Linked DNA regions of Homo sapiens: region 2 is linked to region 1. Evidence: fine-mapped expression QTL. A gene starts in region 1. The other region holds a variant in brackets. All regions are shown on one strand. Distances are between the middles of the regions. Region 1 holds the start of TAFA1 (TAFA chemokine like family member 1). Region 2 overlaps SUCLG2-DT (SUCLG2 divergent transcript).

The links. PIP is the estimated chance that this variant, and not a neighbour inherited with it, causes the effect.
Region 2: its variant is fine-mapped to the expression of TAFA1 in CD8 T cells (CEDAR, PIP 0.92).

The regions. Positions count from the first base shown.
Region 1 is chr3:68,002,009-68,007,399 of GRCh38, forward strand. It overlaps TAFA1 (TAFA chemokine like family member 1), which reads left to right and starts at 2,239. Exons shown (of 5, transcript NM_213609.4): 1 at 2,239-2,694; 2 at 4,616-4,736. The coding sequence starts at 4,619.
Region 2 is chr3:67,668,160-67,673,550 of GRCh38, forward strand. SUCLG2-DT (SUCLG2 divergent transcript) reads left to right here. Exons shown (of 7, transcript NR_109992.1): 2 at 1,657-1,750; 3 at 2,670-2,845. Among named protein-coding and RNA genes, the nearest start is that of SUCLG2-DT, 16 kb to the left of the region's middle. The variant T/TG (reference allele first, on the strand shown) is at 2,327.

The DNA of each region.
Region 1 (5,391 bases):
GGCTGAACCTTATGGCATACCCAACCCTAAAGGGATCAGGAAGTGCAATCCTACTATGGTCAGAAGGTGGAAAGGCTCAACTTCTCTGAAAAATGTGAGAGTAGTTTTGCTTTGAGTTGGGAGAATACACTAAATGGCCTCAAAGATCAATATATGTTGATTCTTACATTATTAGGACAAATGATCATTGGCTGCAATGCAATGGACTGCAAGGTATTTGGAAGAAAAAAATAGAACTATGCTAATATTCTTGCTTCATTACATGCATTTAGAATGATAGTTAAGGCGAGTCTTTATTCCAGTATTTTTTTCTTAATTGTCAGCAATGCCTATCTGAATGCCTTGAATGTAATCCATTAGGTGGTCGATTAAATTGAATTATGGAAGTAACTATCTTGACCCTTATTTTAATCTCTAGAAATGAAAAACATAATGGTTACAGGTTTTCAAAATAGTAGCCTTTATTAGCAAAGGTGAACTTCCTTTTAATTTTAATTCATTAGCATAGCAAAACCACAACCAACAACAATCACGGGGCAAAAGCCATCTTGTATACTTCTATATTTCAAATGCCTGGTGTAATATGTACCTCTAGAAAGAATGAATAATCATTTTTTGAGACTATCTTAATGTTAAAGAAATAAGAAAATATAATAGTTATTTTTTTGGATTTTTTTTCCATTAAATATTTTATCCCAGTGTTTAAGAATGTACTCTTGAGCCAAATCATTTGGGCTTGAAATCTGCTCTGTCTTTTACTACCACACAACCTTGTGCACGTTCTTTAATCTTCCTGTCTCCTCTCACATTCCCCATCTGTGAAACAGAGATAATAATAATACTTATCTTGTGGGGTTGGTAAAAAGAATTAAATTAGACTTTACAAGACATACTATAGAATGTGCTAGCATCTGGTGAAGGTTTGATAAACATTACCTGCTGCCACTGCTGTTATTATTTTTTTATCTTGATGCTGTACAGTCAGTGTAAACTTTCTGTACACACTCATGAACAATAATAATGAGGCACAGATGTGAAACATGCAACACCAACTAGAACTTTGACATTTTTAACTGTGAGATTAATATTTACTATTACTTAGAAATCTGTTTAGAGGTAAGATTTAGAGAACAGTTGTTATGTTACAAAGAGCTATTATGTGTGTTTTGTGCAATGTGAAAGACCAATTGGCAAGACTGACGAGTCTGAAGGATCCCTAACTCTCTCACTGTGTGTAACATGAGAAAACAGAATCACTTGCAAAGATGTGCAGCAGCATTGGACCTTCTTTATTGTGCCTCTGAAAGGCAAGAGAGTATTCTGGGGAATTTCAAAATGTTTCCAAGGAAGCAATATTATGAGAACTACCTTGATTTTGAAAACACCATAAAAGATTAGACAGTATCATCTATAACAGTGGGGATCTCATCAATCACGTTTTCTGCTTTGTTCCCAGGCACCTAACACATAGTAGGTGCTTTATAAGTGATTTGTGAAATAACTGAGGGTATTTCAGAGAATTATTACCAGCACAATCTATAAATGAAAACTAGGTCATCTTGTATTCATCATTGAAATTTAGGCAAAATTATACTATATTTCTGAAGAAGAAAGGGTTCAAACCGTAGTAAGAGGAAGAAGATGTTGAACTTCTGAGTGTTTTCCCTCCCCACCCCAGCATGTTATTTGAAGGAGAGGAAAAATTTTTTAAAAAAGAGCTGTGAGCATATTTCTTCATTTGATGCTGAAAATAACATATTTTTATTTATTAAACATGTTCAAAAAGTTCAGAAGGTTTTTATTGGACTTATGCATATACGCATCTATGTCCTATTCCAGGTAAATTCTAGTCTATTTAACTGCTGAAACAACCAGCAGACTTAAATTAGTATAAACCTGACAATATTTGTGGTTAATTTACTGGTAAAAAGAACATTAAGAGGTAAGAAATGGCTTATATTTCACTTTCCCATTTACTGTTAGAAGTCTAACTCCCACTAATACTATCAGTATTTTGCAGAATGCTTTTTTCTTGTTTCTCCTTCCCTCTTTACTCTTTTGTTAAATCAGTGGTATCAGTAGGACTTCTAATGTAATAAATCAGGCAATATAATGTTAAAGCGCTGCTTGAGTTGTTGAAGAGTTAGTAGGCAGATATTACAATTCACTGTAGCTGTAATAGAGGGTAATGTCACTTTAAGACATGTGATACTTTAGAGCGGAGGGATGTATTGAAACAGACTACTGCTACTTACAGCACCGTATAGCAGCCCTGCTCCTACATTTTGCTGCCTTACTCTGCCCCGAATGCACTGGAGTGGGGATGGTCCATCGGCAACTATAAACTGATTCTCATCAGGAAACTGCACATTATCTCCCCATCACTTCAAAGGTCTCGTCAGGCAGAGGTGACGCCAGGAGATGATTTAAAGGTGAAAATGACAAGGTTTCCACCCCTCAAACCTTGGCTCCTTTTCTGACAATACAGTCTGAATGAACCCGATGTCTTTTTTTTTACTGTGGAAATAGGATCGGAAGAGAGTAACATTTTTTTTTTTTTAATCCTGATAAAGAAGATTGTTGGGAAGCTCTTTGAAAAAAAATTTTAAATTGTGGCACAGATGGATTTTAAAAAGTGTTAGATCTTTCCAATGAACACTAATAGAGTACTCTGCTCTTGGCTGGATTTTTCAGGTAAGAAGCATCTTTAAGGGTTTAAGATTCAGAAAGCAGATCTGAAACATATCCAGGCATATCTAGAGAACTGTGCAAGGCTGAATGCTTTATTTGGGGAAGACGCTTAATAACATTGAGACAACCCCTTGGTAAAGGAGCAAGCAGTGAGAGTGACATGCAGGAGGCTTGGAAGTAATGCTGAGAATTTAAAAAAGTTAAATTAAAAAAATATATATTGCAAGCATAAAATCACAGTAATCCTTTTGAGTGGTAGGATCTATATGGGTGAAGAAATGAGCAAGAGAAAGCAGTCATTGAAAAACTATTAAGTTTTGGTTGTGGCAGGATTTTTTTTTCAAGTTTGGATGAATTTCCAGTACATTTTAACTGCAATTCACAAGCAGTAAATACATCCACAGTCACCTCTGTTTTGTCTTTCTGTAATTTGCAGGGTATTCTGAAAAAGTCCCCAAATACATTCATTTTAGGTTTCACAGGAGGGGTGTTGCTGTTTATTTCCACTGAAGAGAATGCATGTATGTTATCCCAATAGTTCTGAAAACAATAAGGCAAAGTATGTTGTATACAAAAGTAAACAGTGGGCAGTGAAACTAATTAGAAAGTGAATGCTCCATCTGAATCACAGACTTAGGCATGAATAGCACCAAGCTGTTGAAAATAATGTTTTCCTGCTTTGCACTTAATTATAGTTGTCACCATTTGTCTATTATAGTCCTAAAATCCTTCCAAGACTGCATCTCTCTGCTAAAATCCACAAATTAGCGTGCATTATGTGCATACATATGATGTATATTTTTGTTTTCTGAACATCAGTTTTTAATAAAGAACCAATTTTCATGAATAAAGAAGCCAGGCTGGGAGGTTACTAGCACGTTTTCAACGTATAGTTGAGATTTTTGAAGGGTATGATTTGACAGTGAAAAGGAAAAGAAAGAAAGAAATCTTCCAAAGCCCTCTCTGCCTAACAGAAAAGCATACAGTTAACTGGATTCTTGTGTAGAAAATGCTTCCCTATCACTGGCTGAGTAAGGACGGTGCTTCAAGTTTGATTAATTTGGCAATATGAAATGCAGCATAAGGTGTTGTTTGAGAAATTGGACAATATATAGCGCAGTTGAGCCTTTGTAGTTCCTAAGATCCTCATAGGTGCAGATAAGACTGTCAAAGTTTCAGCACCCGAGAAAAGGTACATATTCATCCATAAATACATATGCCACCTGTATATGCATATTCATCAATGCTATACAACAAAAGCTACAATGGAATCTTAGGAGGCTAAGCAATATTGCAAATTATGGCTTGCTCTAGGATAGAAGCATAGGTGTTGCATCTGAAACTCATTCTGGCTAAACACAATCCCTTCTGATTCTTAGGTCCAGTCAAAAGGATCAGTTCTATCAGGAGATTACAACATGCCTCTGAGAAATGATTACTTAGTTTAGAAGACAGCATTGCAATTAAAAATTCATGACTGTAGAATTAAAAAAAAAAAAAGAACCCACTCTTTCCTTCCAGGCTTATGTCAGACTTGCAATGAAGTTAGAATGAACAGGAGGAGTCTGCAGCTTTTCAGTGCCTGGGATAACTATAGTTTAAAGATCATTGTGTAAAATAGGATTTTTAGTCAGCATGCATTGTTTTAAACCGACTAACTGATAGCCTAAAACTTTATTTTTGCATTTTGCCAATCCTTGGAGTTTTGTTTTGCAGAATTAAGAAAAAAATGAATGTATGATCATCTGAAAAGGGCTTTCTCTCAATCCCACTTCATGGCATGACCTCTGCTGGATCATTAGTTCTAGCCAGAGAAGTAGCAAAGGAACATGACGTCTGAGACCTCCCTTCCCTCATCAGTGGGGCTGACTGAGCTGGGGGCTTGAAGCCGGAGGTAACCTTTCCTGTCGAATGTTCTCTTTAGAGAATGGCAATGGTCTCTGCGATGTCCTGGGTCCTGTATTTGTGGATAAGTGCTTGTGCAATGCTACTCTGCCATGGATCCCTTCAGCACACTTTCCAGCAGCATCACCTGCACAGACCAGGTAAGTCAGGAGCTGGCTCCACTGCAGCCTCCTCCAGTCTTACCACTATTTCCTTAACAGATGGTTGAATGCAAGTGACATAAAGTGCTATAGTGTGGGCAGCTTGCCTTTGAATTCCAAGACATATTGTTGGCTGGATGCTTTGGGGGAAGGGGAGTGTGCCAAAATGTCTTGGAGGTATTTCTATTAATTTCTCAGAAAAGGTGTGTTTTTCTAAGTGTCACCCCACCTGCTTCTACACACCTTGAAAAGTAGAAGTCATCTGTTTTTGGATGCTTTGGCCAATAGCAGAATATTCTGCAAAAGTTGGAATAACTTTCAATACTTGAGGATTTTACCTACTATAATCTTGGTCTGTATGTGGCTAAGAATTTTGTGGGGGCATAGTCCCCAAACTAACTTTGGAAGCAAGTTGTCAATGAAAAAGAAATTAAAAAGTAACTTACTATTTCTTGCCTGGTTTAATGTGCCTTCTTTCCTTTCTCCCTTCCTTCACTTTCTGTTCTTCCGGTATGCTCAGTGGCATTTTTCCCTCTCTTTTGGCAGTTTCAGGGACGAAGTCCCTCCCACCTGATTTTTGTTTTGTTTTGTTTTGTTTTTCCTATATTGAATTTTTAGTTCCGGACGCATTTTGCTTTCTTCCTCTTAATGTTCA
Region 2 (5,391 bases), 330 kb before region 1:
TTGTAACAAAAACAACAAATGGCTAAGCTGTGTTGGATCTGTGTTATGTGCAGGCACTGTGCTAAGCAGTTTTCCTGGAAGTGTCTACCTCATTTCGTTCTCTGAATAGCTCTAAGAGGTAAGTGCTATTGCACTGTTACAAAATTAGAAGGAAAACGTACAGAGAAGCAAAGTAGTTTACCTTAGATGGCATGGCTAGGAGGTTTCAGGATTGACATTTTACCTTAGACTCCAGTCTAGAGTAGTTCCTTTTGTTTCTCTGAGGTGCAGCTCTGAGGTAAAAGAAAGGGAAGATTTGGTAGCAAGGGTGTAAATGAGGATTTCATTCCCTCTGCACTATTGTCCTTTTGGGCTGGACCATTCTTTGTTGTGGGGGGCTGTCGTATGCATAATGGGATATTTAGCAGCATCCCTGGCCTCTACTATTATATGCAGTAGCAAATGCCCCCTCCTTTACACTTGTGACAATCAAAAATCTTTCTAGATACTGTATCTTTCTAAATGTTGTAATGCCAAATATCCCCTAGAAGCATGATATGGTTTTGGTGTGTCCCCACCCAAATCTCACCTTGAATTGTAGCTCCCATATCCCCACTTGTTGTGGGTAGTTACTGAATTATAGGGGTGGGTTTTTCCCATGCCATTCTCATGATAGTGAGTAAGTCTCACAAGATCTGATGGCTTTATAAAGAGCAGTTCCCCTGCACATACTCTCTTGCCTGCTGCCATGTAAGATGTGCCTTTTGCCTTCTGCCATGATTGTGAGGCCTCCCCAGCCATGTGGAACTGTGAGACCATTCAACCTCTTTTTCTTTATAAATTACCCAGTCTTGGGTATTTCTTCATAGCAGTATGAAAAGGGACTAATACATGGGGGTGGGGAGGAAGAGTAAAATCTCCCCTGGTTGAGAACCACTATTATAAATATTTGTTCTTAGAGCAGAAATACCGTAACACTTAATATTGCCAATCTCACCTTTTTGACCTTTAATAATCCTAGATATATCTCCTCCCTCCACTAAAAAACCACTAAAAACAACAAAGATTATTGCATGAAATGTTTTATTTTCATATATCTCATCTTTTAGAGTGGATTAATTTTTTAAAATTATAACAAGAGGGAGGCAAAAAGTTTTAACTCATGAAGCAATCATTAAATGAATTAAAATAGTAATTCTCATGTCATTAGTTTGATTTTAGCCAAGCCAATGAAGCACTATTCTAATATTCTGCACAAAATAGCAAATTTCAATTTGAAAATTCTCCAAGCCATTAATGGTCCTGCTATCCATCTGATTTAGTAAGGGTTCAGAGCATTTGTGAGCTAAACTTTCTCAGGAAGTCATTTTTATACTATCAGCATTAGCCTGTGCCATTAAGATCAGCTTTTCCTTGATACAATGAGTTTTTATGTTATTGTCTGTGTCTTGTGGAAAAGTATAATTTTTAATGAAAGAAACCTAAGATTCTTTCATTAGGCTCCAAATTAGGCTCCAAATTCCCCCACTGTGATTTCATCTCATCAGTCTGTGCAAGGGGAGAGTTTGGTATTCCAAAGAAAATCAATTCAAACTACTAAAAACAATTGAAAAGTGTGAAAAATATTTTTTAAATATTTGAGTATGACTCAAAATACATGCTTTATTTATTGGTCAGCGTGAACAACCCCAGAAGGAAAAAGAGTGCTGTTGTTAAAGGTATCTGGCATCATGGACCCAACCATCACCAGGAGTTTCTCACTTCATCTCTGGTGAGTTTCTCTGTTTAGCATTCCTTTCAAAGTAGGTTTTTTCTCAAGGTGGGGAACCTAGGAGCTCCAGTGTCACATCCATACTTCATTATGACCAAAGAGGAAAGATAGCCCTAGCTCAAGTCTCAAAATATCTAAAAGACCCTCATGAGGTCAGCCGGAGTCCCAGGTGTATTCCTGGAAATCTCAGTGGCCAAAGAGGTGGCTGCCATGCCGTTTCAAGTCAGATTCAGGTACAAGAGGTTTTATTAAGGAAATTTTCTTAGTAGAAAATGGTAAGGGTATATGAAGGCAGGATAAAGAAGAGAAAATTCCTGGTCAAAGCTGCAATTTCAGATGAAGTGCCAGCCTTGGGCCACAGAGAGCTTAGAGCATAAATTACATGTCAGAATTTGTCCCCTTCCACAGCAAGGGAGCTGGGCAAAAGCAACATTGTGCCAGTCATTGGTTACAGCTTGCCTTGGTCAGTGGGATGTAAACCCTGGCTCTCTATATGCATGGCAGCCCTGTTAGCTCCAAGGTAATCCTCTGAAGAAGGTTGCAGATACAAACTTTGCAGCAAAAGGAAGAAGTAGT[T/TG]GGGGGCTGGGCACACAGCATTTGGTAGAGGGGATCTGAAAGGGCTGCATGGTGTTCCCTGCACACACCTATTCCTAAGTGTCCAAAATGTTGGGTCTCTATGATTGGCAACCCCAATAAGCACCATGCTTTTGAGCCAGGGAGGAGAGATTTACCAAAAGAGGGACTATCCTGTTGCTCTTTTGAAGAAGAAAGAAGTGATGGGCAGACAAAATCTGTATAGCTTCAGCTGATTTGGACTTACCAAAGTTGACCCCAAGCAAGTTGCATTAAGGTCCGATAAACACACACTTAGAAAAGGACAGTTGCATTTACTGCGCACCTAATACTGTTTTGTCAACAGCTTTATTGTAGTATAATTTGCATACAATAATGGCACACATTTAATGTGCACAGTGTGATAAATTTTGACATATGTATACATCCATGAAGCCGGCACCACAATCAAGATAATGAACATCTCGCTTACCCCAGAAGTTTCCTGTGCCCTGTCACTCCTCCGTATTCCTCCATCCTCAGGTAATCACTCATATACTTTCTATCACTATAGATTATTATGTATTTTCTAAAATGTTATATAAATAGAATCCTAGAGTATATACTCTCCTTTGTCTGTTGTATTTATTTTGAGATTAATTCATGTTGGTTTCTGCATCAGTCGTTCATTCCTTTTTATTGCTGAGTAGCATTCTGTTGTAAAGACATACCACAATTTGTTTGTCTGTTCACCTGTTGATGGCCTCTAACACTTTTACATGTCATGTTGCATTTATCTGTCATATTCTTTTCACACTACTGTGAGGTAAGTCTTATTATGCCCATTTAAGGGAAGATGCATTTAGACTTCAGAGAGAGAAACTAAGTTACCTAATTGCTCAGCTAATAAGAAACAGAGCTTAGATCTCTGTTTTTTAACTCAGTAAAGCCTATGTTTTTTTTCTTACTTCACCATCTTTCTAAGCACAGATCTGCACACAAAGTTAGATACTCATTAGTTGATTTTTATCTACTCTAATTAGCACAACTTACATATTCAGAAAAGCTTCTCCAATTTTATATGCTTACTTTCAGCTTTGATGCTGTATTTATACCACAGTTGGGAAATAACCTATTTTCTTCTCTGTTTTCTCTTCAAAATAATAAACCAGAAGAATTCAGTATCCAAAATTTGGTCGTTTTTACTCTACTATACTGAACAATTAGTCCATTTTACTATCATGCCAAACAGCTCACACTTTAACAAATCAACACTAAGTGTGCTCTATTCAGATGCCTTGAAATTTCAAAGTAAAATGGCAAATGATACTAGATGAAAAACGTTAAGAATTTCAGCAGATTTTGCAGTGATGAAACTTTGTCTTACCTCTTAGAAAATGCCATTGCGCTGACTTTAGTGCCTTAAACTTCTAAATTGCATTTGACTTACATGTTTTCACTTGTGTGTGTACAGTCTCCCCAATTCAGTTGTGAACTCTTTGAGATCATCTAGCAAGCCAACTCTCTATAAAATCTGTATGTCCGAGTTCAAAGCTCTAACTCCACTCAACCCAGATGGTATACATTCAAATCCTGTTGGCCTAACATTTTCAAATGGAAAGAATACAATTAGAAAGATTTTACCTGAATTATAGAAGCCTCATAAAGCAGTGAGAGCCTAGAGGCTAAGGAGTCATGGGGAAGTTAAATAAAGTCTTAGTCATGAAGATCCTGTTGAAGCTCTGTCTGTATCCCCTAAGTGCTTGCCTCTGTAGTCAGCTTACTGAAAACCCTTTAATTCTCTCCACCTAAGGTCATTTCTCTGTCTTTGGAAGCAAGCTTGGCCAGCATGCAGGGCAGGCTAGAAGTGCAGAAAGGTTAATGCTCCAGGAATCAATCCTAAACCAATAACAGAAAGTTGGTAGATAAGTACCTTAGCACCTTTGCTTCTGGGAAGGGGTAATTCTAAAGCTGTTCTACTTTGTTTTGAGTTCCCCCAGTGAGTTGGGTTCTGTTACCCACAGCAGTCAGCTGCTCAATAAATCACCCTTTATTATCTTCCTTCTCTGTCTCATGTCTCAGTTTTTCTCCCTCTGTGTCTTGGGATCACTTCTCAAATAAACTTCTTGCACCAAAATCCCTGTCTCAGAGGCTAATATGGGGGAAAGCCAAAGACAGACGTTAACCACCATGGCACGTCTATAGCGTATTGGGTTAAATATTTTATATACATTAATCCATTCAATCCCCATAATGAAGATAAGAGGTGGGTATTTTTATTCTTATTTGATGAATAAATGAAGTCTGAAAAGTTAAGAAATTTACCCATGTTTACACTTTATGTGGCAAAGTCAGGTGCCCTGCGCCCCCAAGTGAGTGAATCCCAACCCTATGTTTTGTATTTTTGTTTTTTTGGTTTTTTTGAGACAGTCTTGCTCTATCACCCAGGCTGGAGTGCAGTGGTGTGATCTTGGCTCACTGCAACCTCTGCCTCCTGGGTTTAAGAGATTCTCATGCCTCAGCCTCCCAAGTAGCTGGGATTACCGGCACCCACCACCACACCCAGCTAATTTTTGTATTTTTAGTAGAGACAGGGTTTCACCATGTTGGCCAGGCTGGTCTCCAACTCCTGACCTCAGGTGATCTGTCCGCCTTGGCCTCCCAAAGTGCTGGGATTACAGGCGTGAGCGACCATGCCCAGCCTCAACCCTATGTTTTACACACTATAAAAACTCTCAGGCTAGCTCCCTTGGAATTGTGGAGTACAGAATTAACCCAACCTCACCTGTTAGCACTGGAAAATGTCAACATCTTTTTCTTATATTTATGATAGTGCCCAGGAAAGGACTGGGTACATTACAGCTCCCAGTAAAAGCTGGTTAAATTGCAAGGATTTTTTCTTTATTTGTTGTGACTCTTGTGAAACCTTGACCAGCAATTTAGAATGAACATTGGCTTTGCTAGCTGTGTTTGCAGAAGTAATATCAAAATGATATCCTATTCATGTTTCTGCAAGAGTAATGTCTACCATTCATTCTGGCCTCACTGATGGTGTGCTGATAAGATTACTATAAGTGAACATTCTCATT